Homo sapiens: one gene and its partners. The protein of the gene in region 3 interacts with the protein of the main gene of each other region in a pairwise test. Each region holds a gene or a part of one and is shown on either strand. Other genes may lie near its edges.

Evidence for each region. Proteins that work in one complex are often made in the same cells at the same time.
Region 1: the proteins of ATXN2 (region 3) and DDX6 interact in binary tests that used the Homo sapiens proteins (3 or more experiments, as listed by UniProt).
Region 2: the proteins of ATXN2 (region 3) and STOML2 interact in binary tests that used the Homo sapiens proteins (3 or more experiments, as listed by UniProt).
Region 4: the proteins of ATXN2 (region 3) and G3BP1 interact in binary tests that used the Homo sapiens proteins (3 or more experiments, as listed by UniProt).

What each region holds. Positions count from the first base shown.
Region 1 is NC_000011.10:118,762,908-118,768,286, forward strand, and holds part of DDX6 (probable ATP-dependent RNA helicase DDX6), read right to left. Parts: coding exon 5,316-5,379; intron 2,449-5,315; coding exon 2,302-2,448; intron 400-2,301; coding exon 305-399; intron 1-304.
Region 2 is NC_000009.12:35,099,575-35,105,589, reverse strand, and holds STOML2 (stomatin-like protein 2, mitochondrial), read left to right. Parts: upstream 1-2,458; 5' UTR 2,459-2,495; coding exon 2,496-2,540; exon of another isoform or gene 2,541-2,766; coding exon 2,767-2,904; exon of another isoform or gene 2,905-3,395; coding exon 3,396-3,495; exon of another isoform or gene 3,496-3,627; coding exon 3,628-3,686; exon of another isoform or gene 3,687-3,778; coding exon 3,779-3,880; exon of another isoform or gene 3,881-4,029; coding exon 4,030-4,164; exon of another isoform or gene 4,165-4,310; coding exon 4,311-4,455; exon of another isoform or gene 4,456-4,578; coding exon 4,579-4,658; exon of another isoform or gene 4,659-4,863; coding exon 4,864-4,992; exon of another isoform or gene 4,993-5,417; coding exon 5,418-5,555; 3' UTR 5,556-5,812; downstream 5,813-6,015. Other genes in the region: ATOSB (atos homolog protein B), read left to right, coding at 216-369. UniProt on the Homo sapiens protein: Mitochondrial protein that probably regulates the biogenesis and the activity of mitochondria.
Region 3 is NC_000012.12:111,453,187-111,457,366, reverse strand, and holds part of ATXN2 (ataxin-2), read left to right. Parts: intron 1-7; coding exon 8-153; intron 154-1,110; coding exon 1,111-1,338; intron 1,339-2,247; coding exon of another isoform or gene 2,248-2,322; intron 2,323-3,521; coding exon 3,522-3,690; intron 3,691-4,180. UniProt on the Homo sapiens protein: Involved in EGFR trafficking, acting as negative regulator of endocytic EGFR internalization at the plasma membrane.
Region 4 is NC_000005.10:151,787,832-151,793,210, forward strand, and holds part of G3BP1 (ras GTPase-activating protein-binding protein 1), read left to right. Parts: intron 1-2,491; coding exon 2,492-2,573; intron 2,574-3,057; coding exon 3,058-3,231; intron 3,232-5,379. UniProt on the Homo sapiens protein: Protein involved in various processes, such as stress granule formation and innate immunity. Plays an essential role in stress granule formation.

The sequences.
Region 1 (5,379 bases), on a different chromosome or scaffold from region 3:
TAATCACAGAGCAGAAAGAGACTTAGAATAAATTTGGCATTGAGGTTATTCACTCCTCTACTAAAAAATTAAAACCTAATGTCTGCTATCTCTAAGAAAAAGACAAAATGCTGAATTCCAATGAATGCCTATAATCTACTCCCTCTGACGGGTAAAACACATTTTATAAGCAAATTAATTTAAACTGATTGTTTATGTGTTTATTAGATCATAAACACAAGCAGCTTTTGCTTCATTCACTGGCAGTTATAAGCAAAGCACAGAAAAGTACAGAACAGTATAATGCCAAATGAAGAGACATTACCTCATCCAATACTATCATCTGGACATGATCAACCTTTGCTACTCCTTTCTTAATAAGATCCAGGATTCTCCCAGGGGTAGCAATCACCACGTGCACTATGCAAGATTTAGAAAACATACATTCTCATTAATTTTAATTTGAGCAAAGAGGATAAAGGTTTATAATATTACAGTCCTGAGCTGCTTAATGATAATTCTGAGAAATGCATTGCTATGTGATGGTATAGCCTACTCCATTGTATAGCTCCATTATAATCTTATGGGAACACCGACATACGTGCAGCCGTCACTGACCACAACATTGTATGCAGCACATGACTATCTTTTATTAGAAACAACTAGGCCGGGTGCAGTAGCTCATCCCTGTAATCCCAGTACTTTGGGAGGCCGAGGTGGGTGGATCACATGAGGTCAGGAGTTCGAGACCAGCCTGGCCAACACGGTGAAACCCTGTCTCTACTAAAAATACAAAAATTAGCTGGGTGTGGTGGTGGGAGCCTGTAATCCCAGCTACTCAGGAGGCTGAGGTAGGAGAATCGCTTGAACCCAGGAGGCAGACGTTGCAGTGAGCCGAGATCACACCACTGCACTCTAGCCAGAGCAACAGAGTAAGACTGTGTCTCAAATTAAAAAAAAAAAAAAAAAGAAAGAAAGAGAAGAAACACATTGTGTTATAGAGGTGGAAATAACACAAAAAGGCACAAAGATGTGTTTTAGGATAAAGACTTCCATTTCACCACAGGATGCTTAAAAAATATTTGTTTCACCTCTACATTGGGTGGGGTACAGCTTCCTAAATCACCTGCTGCTTTCAACAGTAGGCATACTTTCTTGTCTTAGGATAATTCTCAATTAATAGCAGAAGGCACACCAGACTTCTGACATAAGAGCAATGCCTCTAATCTAGAGCAGTGAGCCGAGTATTGTTAAAAGGATCAAACAAGATAATTTTTTAAAAACCTATGCAATACAAAGAATGTATCACATAATTATCATATATAATATTCTAACTAAAATCAAGATATAATTTTATATGAGTGATCTCATTCTTGCTGTTTTGTTACCTTTTTCCACTCGGCAATGTATCATGAAACCTCTTCATGAAAATGAATACAGGTCAACTTTACTCTTTAATGACTATGTAGAATCCTATTCAGATTATACCTTAACGTATTTAGTTAGCCAATCTCCTTCTAAGTTGGCCAATTTTTCGGCACGACAATACCACCCCATAGCAAACAACTTTGTACCTACAGCCCTGCATTTACCCAACTTTTTTCTTCAGGAAAGATTCTTAAAAATATACATTTATGGCCGGGCACGGTGGCTCACGCCTGTAATCCCAGCACTTTGGGAGGCTGAGGCAGGTGGATCACGAGGTCAGGAGATCGAGACCATCCTGGCTAATACGGTGAAACCCCGTCTCTACTAAAAACACAAAAATTTAGCCTGGCGTGGTAGCGGGAGCCTGTAATCCCAGCTATTCAGGAGACTGAGACAGGAGAATGGCCTGAACCTGGGAGGCGGAGATTGCAGTGAGTCAAGATTGCGCCTCTGCACTCCAGCCTGGGCAACAGAGCAAGACTCCATCTCCAAAAAAAAAAAAAATATACACACACACACACACATTATATATACATTTATAATTTTAAAATATACTCCCAAATTGCCCATGATAGAGATGTAAGTTTACACCCCCACATTTACAATGTAGCCTATTTGTCCACAAACTCACATTATCGTCTACTAATACTTTTAGCTTTACCAATTAAACAGGTAAAATTATTATAAACTTGCTGTTTTACAATTACTAATAAAGTCAAATATCGTTTTCAATTATGGTAATTTGTCTTTTTCGCTTGAATGCAGTGGTCATTTCCTTTTCTTACTGCAGTATTTCTGTTCCTTAATTCTTAAAAACAATTTTTAATAATTTACTGAAATACTTGTGACTAAAATAACAGAGAGCTACACTACCTTTTAGTAATCATTTCTTACCTGTATCATCAAGCCTCATTATGTCATCTCGTAAATTGGTTCCTCCTGTGGTTGCCATCACTTTGGCCCCTCCCATGTGTTTGCTGACCTGGATGCAAATTTGACTGACCTGTAGAGCAAGTTCTCTAGTGGGAACAATCACCATTGCTGAAACAGTATCAAGGAATATATAAGAAAATATGGGGTGAGGTGGGAGAACATGCTATACATCATTATTTACAAAATTTAAGAAGCTATAGAAATACTGCGCCTTATGATGCAGTGGCTCACACCTGTAACTGCACCTTATGATGCAGTGGCTCACGCCTGTAATCCCAGCACTCTGGGAGGCCAAGGTGGGCAGATCACCTGAGGTCAGGAGTTCGAGAGCAGCCTGACCAACATGGTGAAACCCCATCTGTACTAAAAATACAAAAATTATCCAGGCGTGGTGGCACGCACCTGTAGTCCCACCTACTCAGGAGGCTGAGGCAGGAGAATCACTTGAACCCGGAGGCAGAGGCTGCAGTGAGGCAAGATCGCGCCACTGCACTCCAGCCTGGGCGACAGAGTGAGACTCAGTCTCAAAAGAAAGAAAGAAAAAAAAAATAGCCTAGGCACGGTGGCTCACACCTACCTATAAGCCCAGCACTTTGGGAGGCCAAGGTGGGTGGATCACCTGAGGCCGGGAGTTTGAGACCAGCCTGACCCTATCTCTACTAAAAATACAAAATTAGCTGGGCGTGGGTGGCACATGCCTGTAATCCCAGCTACTTGGGAGGCTGAGGCAGAAGAATCGCTTGAACCCGAGAGGCAGAGATTGTGGTGAGCCGAGATTGTGCCACTGCACTCCAGTCCAGGCAACAAGAGCGAAACTCCGTCTCAAATAAAAAAAAAGAAAAGAAACACTGCCCCTTATAATCTAGATACCGAGATGTATTAAAAAATTGGGCTGGGCAGCACAGTGAGTAACTCATGCCTAGAATCCCAGCACTTTTGGAGGCTGAGGCAGGAGGATCGTTTGAGCTCAGGAGTTTAAGACCAGCCTGGGCAACATAGCAAGACCCCATCTCTACTAAAAAAAAAAATGAAAAAAATTAGCTGGGAATGGTGGCATGTGCCTATAGTCTCAGCTTCTGGGGAGGCTGAGGCAGGAGGATCACATCAGCCTGGGAGATTAAGACTGCATTAAGCTATGATCATGACACCACACTCCAGAATGGGTGACACAGCAAGACTCTGTCTCCCCCGCCAAAAAAATTAAGAAATAAAAATAAAAAGTTGAATCATTACACAGGACATTATGAAAACTCAAATGTACAAATCTCTTTATGAAAAGAGAACCTATTATAGTGTCCCAGATTTAGACTCTCCCTCAGCAATACTATTATATAAATATTAAACTCTTCCTCTTCTTTTTTTTGAGATGGAGTCTTGCTCTGTTGTCCAGGCTGAAGTGCAGTGGCTGCCATCTCGGCCCACTGCAACCTCTGCCTCCCAGGTTCAAGCAATTCTCCTGCCTCAGCCTACTGAGTAACCGCCACCACACCCAGCTAATTTTTTGTATTTTTAGTAGAGACGGGGATTCATCATGTTGGCCCAGCTGGTCTCAAACCCCTGACCTCAAGCAATCCTCCTGCCTTGGCCTCCCAAAGTGCTGGGATTACAGGTGTGAGTCACTGCACCTGGCCTTCTGCTGCTGCTGCTTCTTCGTTTTGAGACAGATCTCGCTCTGTTACCCAGGCTGGAGTGCAGTGACATGATCTTGGCTGACTGCAACCTCCACCTCCCAGGTTCAAGCAATTCTCCTGCCTCAGCCTCCTTGAGTAGCTGGGACTACAGGCACATGTCACCACACCCAGCTAATTTTTGTATTTTTAGTAGAGACAGGGTTTTACCATGTTAGCGAGGCTGGTCTTGAACTCCTGACCTCAGGTGATCTGCCTTGCCTCGGCCTCCCGAAGTGCTGGGATTACAGGCGTGAGCCACCACACCCAGCCAATACTGTTCTTAATTACAAACTTTCAGCATGTTGAGTTCGCAACTATTAGCTCAAAGTTTATTAACAATATTTCTAAAAGCCCCAACTACATTTGAGTCAGATTCACTGTGTAAAATACCTAGGTAGGAAACTCCTGCTACCTAGGCTCTATTTACATCATATGAAAGTGGGAAGAAAAGATAATTACAGATCACGAAAGCTAAAAATGTAAAGTTTCAGAGATGAAATCTTAATTCCATTAACTTACATTGAATATAACTATGAAAATTTTTTATTCCCCACTGCCTAGGCTCTTAAAATCCCAAAATCCACAGCCTTTAAACAGAAGTTCATGTTTCTACAAGGAATTCTGTTAACACTCATCTGCCACAAGAAATAGTTCCATAGTTTATAAGTAGCAATGTCAACTAATTTAACTTCTCATGACCTCAGCCGCCTTTTTTTTTTTTTTTTTTTTTTTGAGTTGAGAGTCTCACTCTGTCACCCAGGCTGGAGTGCAGTGGCACAATCTTGGCTCACTGCAACCTCCACCTCCTGGGTTCCAGTGACTCTCGTGCCTCAGACTTCTGAGTAGCTGGGATTACAGTTGTGCGCCACCATGCCCAGCTAATTTTTGCATTTTTAGTAGAGACAGGGTTTCGCAATGTTGGCCAGGCTGGTCTTAAATATCTGGCCTCAGGTGATCCACCCACTTTGACCTCCCAAAGTGCTGGGATTACAGGCTGTGAGGCACCGTGCCCAGCCTCAGCTTTCCTACCTATAGGGCACTAATACTTATTTTTCCTGTCTCACTGGAATGCTGTCACAAGTGTGTATCATATAAGAATACTCTTAAAACTAGAAATCTCTAAAAAGCTGGGAATCATTTTTAATAAAAAGACCATCATCAGGCTAAAAAAAGAAAAAACCTGAAAAGAAAGAATACAAATTTTAGATAATGTAAATTCTGACTAAAAAAAGAGTATCTTCTACACATGGCTCCAAGGCTGAAACTCCCATTTTTAGTTTAAAAACAAACTTTTATTCAACTAACCTTGTATATTGTCCTTCTTCAGGTCTAGCCGTTCAAGTAAGGGAATGAGGTAGGCACCGCTCTT
Region 2 (6,015 bases), on a different chromosome or scaffold from region 3:
TTAGTTTATTTTTAAATTTTTATGTATGTATGTACATATATATGTATGTATTCATTTATTTTTAGAGATGGGGTCTCGCTATGTTGCTTAGGCTGGTCTCCAACTCCTGGGCTCAAGCAGTCCTCCCACCTGGGTCTCCCAAAGCACTGGAATTACAGGCATGAGCCACTGAACCCAGCCTGGATTCTTACGTTGATCACATTGTCCTCCTCCAGGTTCCGGAGCTCCCGCTCAGGCCGCTTAAGCCTGCATGGAGATATCCGCCTGCTTTTTTCCCGCCGGAGCCTGGAGCTGGACACAGGGCTCCCCTACGAACTGCAGGCTGTGACCGAGGCCCCTCATAATCCACGTTATTCACCTTTGCCCTGATTGCCAGCACTCTGAACCCATGCGGGCTAATGACCTGCCCATCCTGCTCCATCTTAGAGAACATATATGGAGAGACAGCAAGAGACCCTTCAGGCTTGAATTAAAGCCCTCACCATGCTCACGCCCAAATGGATTATTTGGGTGTTTAAAGCTTCTGATTCTTACTACACCCTGCCCTACTTCGGGTACTCCATGTGCCTGTCCCCTCCCTTGGGTTTCCCAGGCCAGCTTAGGTAGTAGGGAGGAACTGGAGCTACCCTGAGATTTTCTCAAGTTCCCAGGCAAGTTATGCCAGCGTTGCCTCCCTGTCCTGGGCAGGGGCCACTTGTTATTTTATTTATTTTTAATTTATAATTTATTCAAATTGGATTGCCTTGGTAACCTCCCACACCTGATAATTGGCATCACTCCTCCCCGCTTCCCACTCTCAGATATTGCTCCAACCTCAGGAGTTGAAGAGGCTTATGCGGTGGGGGCAGGAGGAGAACTGCTTTCCCTCAGCTGAGGGAAGAGGGGCTATTCCAGAGGGACTGAGTCAGTAGCCAAAGACTCAGCTTCCCCTGTCCTTCCCCAGTCCCTTCACTTCCCCTACCCTCTGACCTATCTCTGAAAGCCAAGTTATGCGTATGTGTGTGTGCACAAGCTTGTCTTTGTGTGGTATGTGTGTGTGAGTGTGCATGTATGCACACACACAGGGGTTAACCACCCCTCACCTAGGGCTCCAGACTCCAGTTGTCCCTCTCCTCCTACCTGTGTCTCCTTGTTTTGGGGTCCTGACTGAAGAAGGTGTCCAGGGGGCAGAGTCAGGGCCAAGCACTGGGGTGCCTCCTCTCACCTGGCCAGACTCTGACCCACCTACCTCAGCTGGGGTGAGGGGCACCCCTCAAACTCAGTCATGTGGTTCCAAACTACCCCATTCCCCACTCCAGACTCTGACCCAGCCTCAGTCCTAACTCCTGGGGCTGGGCTGAGGGGAACAAGCATTTGCTGAAACTTGAAAAAACAAAGCAAATCAAAAACAGGAAAAAATTGTACCTGGTACTTTTTTTTAGAAAAAAAGATTAAAAAAGAAAGAATAAATTCTTGTTTGGAAACTTGAACTAAGCTCTACTTTTGTTGTTGTTGTTGTTGTTGGGGAGAGGGTGTGAAGGGGGATGGAGGGCCTTCCTGGAGCTGGGACTCAGCCCTTTCTACCAGAGAGGCAACAGGCCTGGGCCCATGAGGTCTTAGGCTAGTCCCTGCTGATTCCTGGGGCCTGGTTTTTCTCCTTTCGGAGGGGTTGGTGGGTAAAGTTCAGCCGTAGAAGCTGAACTCTGAATTGTAGATCAGGATTCTAATACTGGTTCTATTAATGACTTTAGCCCCTCAGAACTTCAGTGCCCTCATATGTAAAATGGAGGTGACTACGGAGGTCTCTTGACTACCAGAGCATTAGGGATGTGGGCAAGGTGACATGCTCCAGACAAGGTTGAACGTTGAGGCTGTTTGCTGGACTGTATTTAAGACCGGGCATAACAAACCTTGCTTGGGAAGACAGGGAAGGAGCTGCAGTGTCTTTGAGGAAAGAGGGGAGGGGAAAATCTCGGCCCAATCGCCAGGCAATATTAGGCCCAGTTTCCATGGCAACGGGATTGGGGTCAGTCCCCAGTGGGAGTCCTGGGCACAACACAGCGGGACTACCAGAGAATATCACTATGGCAACCATGGCAACGAGTCAGCTCCAATCCACTAGTCGCTATGGTGACAGATGGGGGCGATACTACGCTCTGGTGGGCAAACTGAGTCTCGGGTGAGGACGAATAATTCAGTGCGTGGTGTCTGAGTGATAATGCCCGCGAAAAATAGCCTCCATTTTGGCCATCAGGCCGGGGATCTTCGGCGTGAACAGCTAAACCCAGAACAACCACAGCCTTCGCCCTTCTCTAGAAGGTCTGCGTTTCCCAGGGAACAACTTGACGCGCCGTTCGACCAAGTAACGCTGATTGGGTGAGTGTTGAAGCGGGGGAGGGAGCTGCCGGAAGTACATCCGGGGGAGCGGAACTGCAAGAGGAAAGGCTCGGGTAGGCTTCTGGGAGCGACCGCTCCGCTCGTCTCGTTGGTTCCGGAGGTCGCTGCGGCGGTGGGAAATGCTGGCGCGCGCGGCGCGGGGCACTGGGGCCCTTTTGCTGAGGGTGAGAGCGAGGCAACCTTTCCAGAGGGTCAGGACAGAGATTACCTGGGTTCTCCGCTGGAAAAGAGCGAAATTCCAACTTTTGGAGAGGACTGGGGTCAGAGGTCATGGTCCCCATGTGATTCTCCGAGGATCCTGAGGGTCGTGGTTTATGGAGATGCCTTCAGGACCGAGGGGCGGCGTGTCTGGCCAGATGGGATCTCTGCTCACCCTCTTCTTTCCTTCAGGGCTCTCTACTGGCTTCTGGCCGCGCTCCGCGCCGCGCCTCCTCTGGATTGCCCCGAAACACCGTGGTACTGTTCGTGCCGCAGCAGGAGGCCTGGGTGGTGGAGCGAATGGGCCGATTCCACCGGATCCTGGAGCCTGTGAGAAACCTCTTCTGCCCACCCTGGGCCAGCCAGATGACCAATCCCTCACGACATGCAATGTCGGGAGGACTTCCTTTGGGCCTGCCCGCACTGTTAGCTCCCGACTCTGTAGGCCAGACCTGACAGGGCCCAGGCTGCTGACCATCATCCCCATGTTACCACCTTTTCCTATGCATCTCACAGGCCCCATTCTTGGGAATCTCCCCTGCCCACTCTCAGCCCTACCTCTCAGTCTGCATAGAGATGGCTATTCTGCTGGCTCCGATTCTCATGACTCTCCCCTCCATTCAGGGGCCTAGTCTTGCATTCCTGTTCTCTTGGGTTTTCTTACCAGTGACACCTCAGCCTTCTGAGGACTTATTTCTTGGTAGGAGCTGCTGCTTTTCTGGGCATGTTCCATGTGTTGACTCCCTACATACTCCAGGACTAGCTTAGGTCCCAACCCAATAGTTCCCAGCCTTCTGAGGACCCATGACTCCTCTTTCCAGGGTTTGAACATCCTCATCCCTGTGTTAGACCGGATCCGATATGTGCAGAGTCTCAAGGAAATTGTCATCAACGTGCCTGAGCAGTCGGCTGTGACTCTCGGTGAGGGGTTCAGGGTGACATGGGTGCTCTGAGGCTATTAGGATGTGGTTGCTGTAGATCCAGAGCTTAGTAGAAAGAACTGGTTGGGACCTAGAGGCCTGACTTTCCCCGTTTTCTCTCCTGGTTCTACAGACAATGTAACTCTGCAAATCGATGGAGTCCTTTACCTGCGCATCATGGACCCTTACAAGGTACCTGTCCCCTACTTTATCCAGCCTTTTGAGTTGCCCTCTTCACTAAAATCTTGTGCCCAAGCTTCTTACACTATCCGTGTCCATCTCAGGCAAGCTACGGTGTGGAGGACCCTGAGTATGCCGTCACCCAGCTAGCTCAAACAACCATGAGATCAGAGCTCGGCAAACTCTCTCTGGACAAAGTCTTCCGGGTAAGCAGATCTGAGCCAGAGTTAGGGTTTGAAGACACAAACCTGACACTCTTAATCTTTTCTGAAGGTCAAGATCAGTCCCAGGCCCTTCTCAGTGTAGGCCCTTGATAGGTAGGTTGAGGCTGTGGGGCTTACACCTCTTTTTCCAGGAACGGGAGTCCCTGAATGCCAGCATTGTGGATGCCATCAACCAAGCTGCTGACTGCTGGGGTATCCGCTGCCTCCGTTATGAGATCAAGGATATCCATGTGCCACCCCGGGTGAAAGAGTCTATGCAGATGCAGGTGGGGGCCAAGGAGGGGTGGGAAAAGGGCCTCAGGGTGCTCCAGTACCAGGAGGATCCAGACTTCCCTCCTGTTATGATGGGTAGAGTTGCATGTCTGTATCAGTCTCCCTTGGCTTGTTGATTGGGATTGTTGTGGGCTTCCAGGTGGAGGCAGAGCGGCGGAAACGGGCCACAGTTCTAGAGTCTGAGGGGACCCGAGAGTCGGCCATCAATGTGGCAGAAGGGAAGAAACAGGCCCAGATCCTGGCCTCCGAAGCAGAAAAGGCTGAACAGATAAATCAGGCAGCAGGTCAGGAGAGGGTAGAGGCTGAGGGAGGAGCAAGGCATGGGCCTTTGAAGATTGGTGCTGGGGCAGGATCTTTGGGGTACTTTGACTTCATGGGTCAAGCAAGCTCTGTCCCTTCTCTTGCAGGAGAGGCCAGTGCAGTTCTGGCGAAGGCCAAGGCTAAAGCTGAAGCTATTCGAATCCTGGCTGCAGCTCTGACACAACATGTGAGAGGCCCCTGGGTGGGAATGGGGACAGGAATTGACAGTGGAAGGGGTTCTCTTATCTACGCTTGAGGAGAGTTCCGCCTCTGTGGGCTCTGTTGAGCCAGATTACATGGTCCTTTTTATTGTGAACTGCTTTCTTCATTCCCCATCCCCCCCTTCTTCTCCGTATCGGTGATCTCTGATTTTTATCCCCCTGTGATCACAGAATGGAGATGCAGCAGCTTCACTGACTGTGGCCGAGCAGTATGTCAGCGCGTTCTCCAAACTGGCCAAGGACTCCAACACTATCCTACTGCCCTCCAACCCTGGCGATGTCACCAGCATGGTGGCTCAGGTTAGAGCTCTCTGAGGACCCAGCATAGAGCACTGGTGCCAGGGACCAAACTGAGACCCCACCACCGTCATCAACACTTACATACCATAAAGGTCTTCAGAGTGCCTTGGCCCTAGACCTCCCTTCATTCTTTGTAGAGATGGAATCTAAGAATGAAACATCTCCACTCAGTCCTGCAAATATGGAAGTTCTTGAGATACCTTTTTTTGGTAGATACTTGTGCTGGTATTCTGAGAGTCACTTTACTCTGATGGTTTGCAAGATTCCTAAAATCAACTCCAGAGCTTACAAGACAGGTTTGAGAGAGGGAGAAAGGAAAACCAACTTACTGGCCCCCATGCCATCTTTTCCCGTTTAGCCATTGGTAGGCTGGGCTGCACCTCTGTCAAGTGTCCTCATGGTATTCTCTCTGTTCCTCTCCTCAGGCCATGGGTGTATATGGAGCCCTCACCAAAGCCCCAGTGCCAGGGACTCCAGACTCACTCTCCAGTGGGAGCAGCAGAGATGTCCAGGGTACAGATGCAAGTCTTGATGAGGAACTTGATCGAGTCAAGATGAGTTAGTGGAGCTGGGCTTGGCCAGGGAGTCTGGGAACAAGGAAGCAGATTTTCCTGATTCTGGCTCTAGCTTCCCTGCCAAGATTTTGGTTTTTATTTTTTTATTTGAACTTTAGTCGTGTAATAAACTCACCAGTGGCAAACCAGAAACTGTCCTCTTTGATTGGGGAATGAAGTTGGGAAAGTCACTAGCATTTTCCTTGGATCCAGTCCTGTCAGCATGATGCCTCCATGAATAAGAGTGAACTTCTTGTAAAGTGAAACTATCATTTTTGTCTTCAAGAGAAACTGTGGGATAGGGTGGAAGTGTTAAACCATATGTTCACTGAACTGCTGGCTGGGAAGTGAAGTCCCCTTCCTGCTAAGTGTGGGGCTGTGTGTTTGAGGCAGGTGTTTGGGGGTTTTTTCGTGGGAAAGAAGTACTTTCATGAGAAACTACTACCCTGCACTGGCATACTTAAAGGGT
Region 3 (4,180 bases):
ACTTTAGTTTCCACGGGCTCCCTTGCTCAGCAGTATGCGCACCCTAACGCTACCCTGCACCCACATACTCCACACCCTCAGCCTTCAGCTACCCCCACTGGACAGCAGCAAAGCCAACATGGTGGAAGTCATCCTGCACCCAGTCCTGTTCAGGTAAGGGCAACTCAGAGGTCTGCATGGAGTGGCTTCTTTATCCTAGTATCTGAGTGCTTTCTTCAGGTGCCAGGTATCGCATCGTCAGAACACATGGCATGTCCACCCTCGTGAAGATGGATACAGCTGTGCCCCTGGGGTGGTGGTTTTAAGAATCACATTTAAAGGCTGGGCGCAGTGGCTCACGCCTGTAATCCCACCACTTTGGGAGGCCGAGGCGGGTGGATCACGAGGTCAGGAGATTGAGACCATCCTGGCGAACACTGTGAAACTCCGTCTCTAATAAAAATACAAAAAAATTAGCCGGGCGTGGTGGTGGGCGCCTGTAGTCCCAGCTTCTCGGGAGGCTGAGGAAGGAGAATGGCGTGAACCCGGGAGGCGGAGCTTGCAGTGAGCAGAGATCGCGCCACTGCACTCCAGCTTGGACAACAGCGAGACTCTGTCTCAAAAAAATAAAAAATTAAAAAAAATCACATTTAAGATACATGTTGATAATAAGGTGATTGGATAAGCTCTGGAAACTTGCAGTAATGAAAAATCAAATTTAACATAAAGTTCATAAGGCAAATTCCTATTTGCTTGGGACTTTTTAATTTCTAAGGTTTATGTGATGAGGTTATTTTCCTATGAGCTTCTTGAATTATGTTTGCTAATGGAGGCAGTTAAAGATGTCTTTGATATCTATCAGTTCCCTGGGGCAGTAGTCTTTTTTGACTTTAGTATGTATGCTCAGAAGTTTCTAACTGCCAGACTGAGAATCAGGCTTCTGTACCCTAGAAAGGAGTTGTCCAGATGGGAGGCACCTCCAGCCTTGCTCTTACCACCCTGTACATTCTCCTGTACTTTCCAGTGACCCTCATCATAGGCCCAAGTGTGCAAAGCTTAGCTTTGTGGGTATCCCTTGGCTGCTTTTCATTAAAGAAGTTTTCCTCTCAATTCTTTCCTGTCGCTTTGCAGCACCATCAGCACCAGGCCGCCCAGGCTCTCCATCTGGCCAGTCCACAGCAGCAGTCAGCCATTTACCACGCGGGGCTTGCGCCAACTCCACCCTCCATGACACCTGCCTCCAACACGCAGTCGCCACAGAATAGTTTCCCAGCAGCACAACAGACTGTCTTTACGATCCATCCTTCTCACGTTCAGCCGGCGTATACCAACCCACCCCACATGGCCCACGTACCTCAGGTAATACCAGCTTTAGCCAACTTTCTGTGAAGGCCAAGTAGAATGTGAAGGTTATCAGTAAGCAGCTAGAGGCTCTCCCAGCTAGGAAACCCTGTGTGTCATGCCATTTGCCTGTCTCCCTTTCCCTCTCAAATACACGTGATCTGGCCCTAAGGGAATGTTTGTGTGGTTTTGTCATGGGATCAGTGAAGGTGCTGATTGGTCAGTCCTTTAGTTTTCCAACTGAGACCTTAAAAATATCTTTGACTCTGGAATGCAACCCAGTCCTTCTTTCCTTTCTGTGTCTGCTTTGCTATGTCTATATAGCCTCACTACTATATATATGTGTACATATATATTCCCCTACACACTTACCTTGGAAGCCAGGCAGGGATGATGGCCTTCACAGAGTCTCAGCTCTCCGAAGTGACTACCGGGGCCTGTCAACTTGATTGTTACTCACATGAGTTCCAGACACATCTCTCCAATTGTTTTCCCTGGTTATCCATATATCTGCTTTGACCATAAGTTGTACTCTTGAGAGGGCTTGGCCTTGGACATTGGTGCAGTGTAACTAGAAGCTGGAAGCACCCAGGTGGTCCCATTTTTCTTTAAGAGCAGCCCTGGAAGCACTTTGGAGCTCACCTCCAGTGTAAGCTGCTACAGGTGAAAGGTGTGCTTGCCATCTCAGTGGTTGCTGTCTGCATCAGCTGCTGACAAAGGTCCCTGCACTCCAGGGCCCAGGGGATTGTCTTAATGAGGAGAAGGAGCTGCACTGAAGTTGGGCTCTAACGCTGGCCTTGAGGCCCTCCCTGGGGCTGTTACGGGTGAATTGGCTGTATTAGATGTCTCTGCTACTTTCATAACAGAACTCTCTGAGGCGGGTCTAAGTGAGACCTGCCACAATGAATTCCATTTCCTGTTAAATAGTGCGCCAGTGAGGCTCTGGCAAGGTGTGGGCTAGAGATGCGACTCAGTTGGATCTATCTCTCAGAAGGCTACCTTGTAAGTAGAGTTCCACAGCTCTGGGAAGTTTGGGCGTCCTCACCCTGCAAAGTTTAGGTTCTGTGGTGTAGCGCACTGCAGTTGATTTGCTTTTTGATAGTGGGGAGGGAAGCCGGTTTGGTCCGTGTGGGCCAGCGTGGTTTGGTGGAGTCAGCTTCATAAGAGCTGGGGTCCTGTAGGTGTCTACCAGAGGCTGGTGGCTAAGTAGGCATGTGAACTTACATGTAAGTCAGGGATCCCTAAAACCTCACTCTGTTTTTGTGCTGAAAGGGCAAAAAGGTTAACACAGGGAAGCTCAAATTTGCCATGTGCCCGTTTGAATATGTGAGAGTAAAAACGGCATTTCATCCAAGGCTTATCGTAGTCTAGAACAGTGCACAGTGTGGGAAAAAGGAAACAAGGGCTCTTCCTGGCCCTGCCAACCCCCTGCAGAGCTGGAATCCAGCTGTTTGGGCTGACTAAAATCACCTTTCCAACTTGACAGTGAGTGAGACCAGGTTGAACTTGGTACAGAGACGCTGGGCTGGCCCAGATGACTTCAGGTTACTCCTTTCCATCTCACTGGAGCCATTAAAAACTCCAACTCCTCCTCCTCCTCCTGCTCCATCAGCATATCTCTGAGAGAGTCACGGGGGCCTAAGAGTCTCTTTTCACTGCCTGGTGAGCAGACCAGAAGCAGAGGGAGAGAGGCAAATGAACAGAGGTCCAAGTAATTCACATACTTGACTGTGACAGTCTCTGCTTATTAATGTAATCTGTTTTCCTATTTGAAAGGGATGTTATCTGCAAAACTACCTCAGGCCCCACATGGCAGCCTGATTCTGAAGCATCATTGAATCTTGTATGATATTAAGTTGAGAAAGCTGCCCTTGGATCCAGTGTCTAATCTTTGTGAAGATCTTACCCCATACATAGAATACAATGATCAGAAATGTCAAGGGTTAGGACAGCACAGCCCTGACTTCTACCCAGGCTCACTTGTTGCCTGCTCCCTGACCCTTGCAGGATCTGCCCAAAGGTGAAGCGCGTCTTCAGGTCAATAGATAATCTACTAGAGATTGTCCCCAGAGAACAGAACTGGGCCCTGAGGCCCACCGTTGCCCTTTCCTGAGAGTCCCAGCCCAGTGAAAGGAACACAGTTGACATGTTGTTGAAGCCGGAGATGTTGCCTGTATGCGTAAAAGAGCTCTCTGTTTCAGGCTCATGTACAGTCAGGAATGGTTCCTTCTCATCCAACTGCCCATGCGCCAATGATGCTAATGACGACACAGCCACCCGGCGGTCCCCAGGCCGCCCTCGCTCAAAGTGCACTACAGCCCATTCCAGTCTCGACAACAGCGCATTTCCCCTATATGACGCACCCTTCAGGTGAGGCGTGTGTGTGCAGGGGCCGCCGGGGCACCCCAAAGCATTCTGCTCGCACAGGTGGAATGGCAGGCAGGGCCAGTGCTTCAAGCCCCGCATTTGAGAACTAGCAAGACCCGTCCAGGAGTGTGCACAGGAGGGACTGTGACGATCAGTTCAGCATCAGGGCCTGAGGCTTCCGGGAGCCGAGTCTGTGTGTGTTCTGATGGTATACAGGATTTGGCTTGATGAGAAGCAGCAGCAGCAGCAACAGCAGCCTGATGCATGCCTAGGACTCAGTTGGCCTTCCTTGTTATGACAGGCTGGACAGGGCAGTGTTTTCCTTCCTGAGTCCCAAAAGTCTGACATGTGGGGGGTTATTACCATGGCAGAGTTTGATTGTAGCTCTGGAGAAGATACTGCTGAGAAAGCGCTGTGGATGGACTGGCTTTGAGTGTAGCGTTAGCCCCAGCCCCTGAACAGGGGAGAGCGCCCTGTGATTGTGCTCTACTAC
Region 4 (5,379 bases), on a different chromosome or scaffold from region 3:
ATTTTCAATTCATAAAATAAAATTTATGAATGTTTTGACATTGCTCTGACAATGGAATATATCTCGTGTGTGTGTGTGTGTGCATGTGTGTGTGTGTGTGAGAGAGAGAGAGAGAGTTAAGTCTCAGCTGTCTCCCGGGCTGGAGTGCAGTGGCAAGGTCACAGCTCACTGCAGCCTTGAACTCTTGGGCTCAGACGATCCTCCCACCTCAGCCTCCTGAGTAGCTGGGACTGAGGTGCAATCCACCACGCCCAGCTAATTTTTTGTAGAGACAGTTTTACCATGTTGCCCAGGCTGATCTCGAACTCCTGGGCTCAAGCAATTCGCCTGCTTCAGCCTTCCAAAATACTGGGATTACAGGTGTAATTGGGTTTTTTTTTAAGGCTTTAAAATTTCCAGAACATTTTTTCTCATTTCCTCCTGATCATTACAAAAATCTTTACTGAAAGGTAGGGCATTGTAAGAGAGTTAACTTCATTTTGCAGATACACTCAGAGGGGTTAAAAATTTGCAGGTACATATGCACATGACTATTAAGTGATAAAACAAGTCTCAAAGCTGTTTTTACCCTTTCTTTCTTTTTTTTTGAGACAGTCTTACTCTGTTGCCCAGGCTGGAGTGCAGTGGTGAGATCATAGCTTACTACAGCCTTGACCTCCAGGGCTCAAGTGATCCTCCTGCCTCAGCTTCCTACATAGCTAGGACTACAGGCATGCACTACCATGCCCAGCTAAGTTTATATGTGTGTGTGTGTGTGTGTGTGTGTGTGTGTGTGTGTGTGTATTATTTATTTATTTATTTTTAGTAGGTGGAGTCTCGCTCTGTCACCGAGCCTGGAATGCAGTGGTGAGAGCTCACTGCAGCCTCTGCCTCCCAGGTTCCGGTGATCCTCCTGCCTCAGCCTCCTGAGTAGCTGGGACTATGGGTGCGCACCACCACCATGCCTGGCTCTTTTTTTTTCTGGAGACAGAGTTTTGCTCTTGTTGACCAGGCTGGAGTGCAGTGGCGCTATCTCGGCTCACCACAACCTCTGTCTCCCAGGTTCAAGTGGTTCTCCTGCCTTAGTCTCCCGAGTAGCTAGGATTACAGGCATGCGCCACCATGCCTGGCTAATTTTGTGTTTTTGGTGGAGACGGTTTCCCTGTGTTGGTCAGGCTGGTCTCGAACTTCCGACTTCAGGTGATCCGCCCACCTTGGCCTCCCAAAGTGTTGGGATTACAGGCGTGAGCCACCGTGCCCAGCCTTTTTTTGTATTTTTATATTTGGTTAATTTCTTTCTACCCCATAGAATAAAACTGACATAAAACATAACAAAAAGAAAAAAGCATAGGCCAGGCATGGTGGCTTATGCCTGTAATTCTAGCACTTTGAGAGGCTGAGGTGGGCGGATCACTTGAGGTCAGGAGTTCAAGACCAGCCTGGCCAATATGGCAAAGCCTTCTCTCTATACTAAAAATACAAAAAAAGGCGGAGGTTGCAGTGAGCTAAGATTGCGCCATGGCACTCCAGCCTGAGCAACAGCACAAGACTCTGTCTTAAAAAAAAAAATGTATTTATCTGGAAGACAAATGTCAAATCTTAATAGTGGTTATCCCTGGATTAGAGCATTTTGGTGTGTTGCTTTCCTGGTAGAATATTGTTTTAATGAAAATGGATCAAAGGAGGACATAGATGGGTGAAAACCATGAGGAATTGACTTTGACATTCTTAATTGCATCAGCAGAAATAGTTAAAAAGTACTTCTAAAACCACTTGCATGAACTAGGTGTTTAAGGGGAACCGCTCACGCTTATTCTCAGATACATTAATAAAAGGACACTTGAAGTCTATGAAGAAGATAGCTGTTCCAGCCTTACCGCACATTTTCTTCCTGAGTGAAAATAGGAACTTATGTATTGGTGGCCATCTTGACATGAAACTACAAGATCCTTCCCAACAGTATCATCCTACACTGAAACCTGGAACCAAATCCATTCCCATTCAGCAAATGTTGATCAAGTGGCATGTAGGGGATACAGAGATGATTGCATACAAAGATGAAAAAGAAAACGTTTCTGCCAGGGCCAGGCGCGGTGACTCACACCTACAATTCCAGCACTTTGGGAGGCCAAGGCAGGTAGAATTGCTTGAGTTTGAGTTCGAGACCAGCCTGGGCAACATAGTTGACCTTATCTCTACTTAAATAAAAATAATCAGCCAGGCATGGTGGCATGTGACTGTAGTTCCAGCTACTTTGGGAAGCTGAGGTGCCATTGCACTCCAGCCTGGTCAGCAAGAGCAAAAAAAAAAAAAAAAAAAATGTGCACATCAAAGATCATAGCCCCGGCACATCGAAGCTGCAATGAGCTATGATTGCATCACTGCACTCCAGCCTGGGTGACAGAATGAGACCCCGTTGCAAAAAAAAAAAAAAAAGTTTGCCAGTATCAGACGTGAAAAATAAACTTAAGATACTTGAAGATGACAAGTAAATCATCTTCCCATTTTACAGATTTTATGGAAAGAACTCTTCTTATGTCCATGGGGGATTGGATTCAAATGGAAAGCCAGCAGATGCAGTCTACGGACAGAAAGTAAGCATTTCAAGCCTTATTTAGGCTGTTAAGCAGGTAGAAAATAACTCATAAAATTGAAGTGGATCATACTTAATAGATTTGCTGATAAAGATCCAGTTTCTCAACTTTTTAGTAAAAGTTGATGTGTTTTATTACTATTTGATTAATATATTTGTTGAAATACTTATGTGATGTCAGATTTGTTAATTTTGTATGATATATTCTAAAGCTTTTGTGTGTTGGAAGATAATTGGCTTTAGCATGGGGATCATCTTTTCTAAACTTTGAAAAGTGTGTTAATTCAGGACAGTTATTTAAAAAACTCAAGCGCGGTCACTGGGAATAGAGTATACAAAGAAACATCAAAATTCAGTCTGCATATCCTGTAATTTAAATATACACATTCTCTTTGTGTTGTGTTGGAAGGTTTTTTTTAGTTGGAGGTTATTTAAATTTTAAGGCATTCTCAGTTGATTATTATTATTATTATTATTTTTTTAAGGAAATCCACAGGAAAGTGATGTCACAAAACTTCACCAACTGCCACACCAAGATTCGCCATGTTGATGCTCATGCCACGCTAAATGATGGTGTGGTAGTCCAGGTGATGGGGCTTCTCTCTAACAACAACCAGGCTTTGAGGAGATTCATGCAAACGTTTGTCCTTGCTCCTGAGGTATGTGTAGGAATGATTATTTTGTAGTGATCCAATACATGAAAAAAGAAACAATGAACTGTTGTGCATATCTTTAAAAACACTTGAAATTTCAGACTTACAGAAAACTTGGAATAATAGTACACTAACTCCTATATACTCCTTACCTAGAGCAGCTGTCACCACTTGCCCACATGTGTATAATTCTTTCTCTAAAATAGTTTAGTGGGCATTTCCTAAGAATAATTCTCTTCCATTCTGTAGTACAGTTATCAAATTCAGGAAATGTTGATGCAATATAATCTATAATCCATTTTTAAAATTTGGAAATTATCTCAATAATGTCTTAACAGTAATTTTTTTTCCTTGTCCAACATGGAATCTATAATTACACATTGCATTTAGCTATCATGTCTCTAGTCTCTTCTAATCTGCACTTGTTCCTTAATCTTTTGTTTTTTTTTATTGCATTGACATTTTTGAAGAGCACACTTTTTTTGTAGGATGCTTTATGGGTGTCATTCAGTGCTTCACATTAGGCATATTATGTCATTTAGTTGTGATATGAATTTTGATTAGTTAGGTTTTGCCACTGTAAAGTTAAATATCTTTTCTCTCTCTCTCTTTTTTTTTGAGACGGAGTCTCACTGTATCGTCCAGGCTGGAGTGCAGTGGCTCCATCTCTGCCCACTGCAACCTCCGCCTCCTGGTTTCAGGCTGTCCTCCTGACTCAGCCTCCCGAGTAGCTGGGACTATAGGCGTGTGCTACCGTACTCGGCTGATTTTAGTATTTTTAGTAGTGATGGGGTTTCACCATATTCGTCAGGCTGGTCTCTAACTCCTGACCTCAAGTGATCTGCCTGCCTCAGCCTCCGAAAGTGGGATTACAGGTGTGAGCCACCATGCCCAGCCTTATTTTTTCTCTTTTTGATTTGTAAATGAAGGATGGGAGATTCTCTATCTTTTTATCTTTCTTGAACACTTATGGCAAAATATTTTCCAGGTTCATCTTGCACTGTTCCTGGCCCAGTCCCTATTCTTGAATCAGCTGTTCCTTCAAGGAGGCCTGGTTCTTTTTAGTTATACTTATGAAAGGACGACAAGTTTATGTTGAATGATTGCATTTGTGTTTTCTTCCGGATTGGTCTAGACTGAACAAGGTTAGGAATCCTGTCTGCTTAAGCATGTATATAGAAATGGCATAGTAAGAAATTGTTGATTAAATCATTGTTTTCTCTAGCATTAATCTTAAGTTTTCTTTTTAGGATAGCAAACCTGAAACGCCTAAAATCTTTTAACCTTTGAATATGAGATAACTTTTTGTCTGTGCAAAATTACATGAAGCCAATTATAGTCATAATTTTTAGAGGAAGGCTTAGATTAAAATGTAAAGATGTGGTAGACTTCTAAATATGCAAAGAATCACATGGAGTATGATTGTGAATTACAGGTTTAATTACAGTTTTTTTCTTTTAAAGGAAGTATCTAACTTCTTAGTATAATACACTATTATATAAACTGTCTCATTTAATACAGAGAGTATTGAGGTATATGTTGATATCTTTCTTTTTTGTTTTTTGAGAGAAGAGTCTCCCTGTGTTACCCAGGCTGGAGTGCAGTGGTAGGATCATGACTTACTGCAGCCTTGACTGCCTGGGCTGAAATGATAATCCCACCTGAGCCTCCTAAGTAGCTGGGACCACAAGTGCAGGCCACCATTCCTGGCTGATTTTTGTTTCTGCTTTTGTGGAGACTCACTCTACAAAAAACTCACTGTTGCCCAGGCTAGTCTCAAACTCCTGGGCTTAAGCAGTTCTCCTACCTCAGCTCTCCAAAGTGTTGGGATTTCAGGAGTGAGCCACTGTGCCTAGCTGGTACCTTTCTTTTTACAGAGGAGTAACAGCCTTAGAAACTGAATAACTCATAATATATAATTGGATCTGCACTCAGGTGTGTCTTATACCTACTGCGAGCAATCTTTTTCAGGCTGCACTACCCTTGAGTGTTTATATCAATATTTTTGGAGACAGACTTGGGGAATTTTAAATATCTGCTGAAGTTAGGAATATGATTGCCTTTTTTTTTGAGACAAGGTCTTACTCTGTCGCCCAGGCTGGAGTGCAGAGGTGCAGTCTGGGCTTACTGCACCCTCCACCTCCCGGGTTCAAG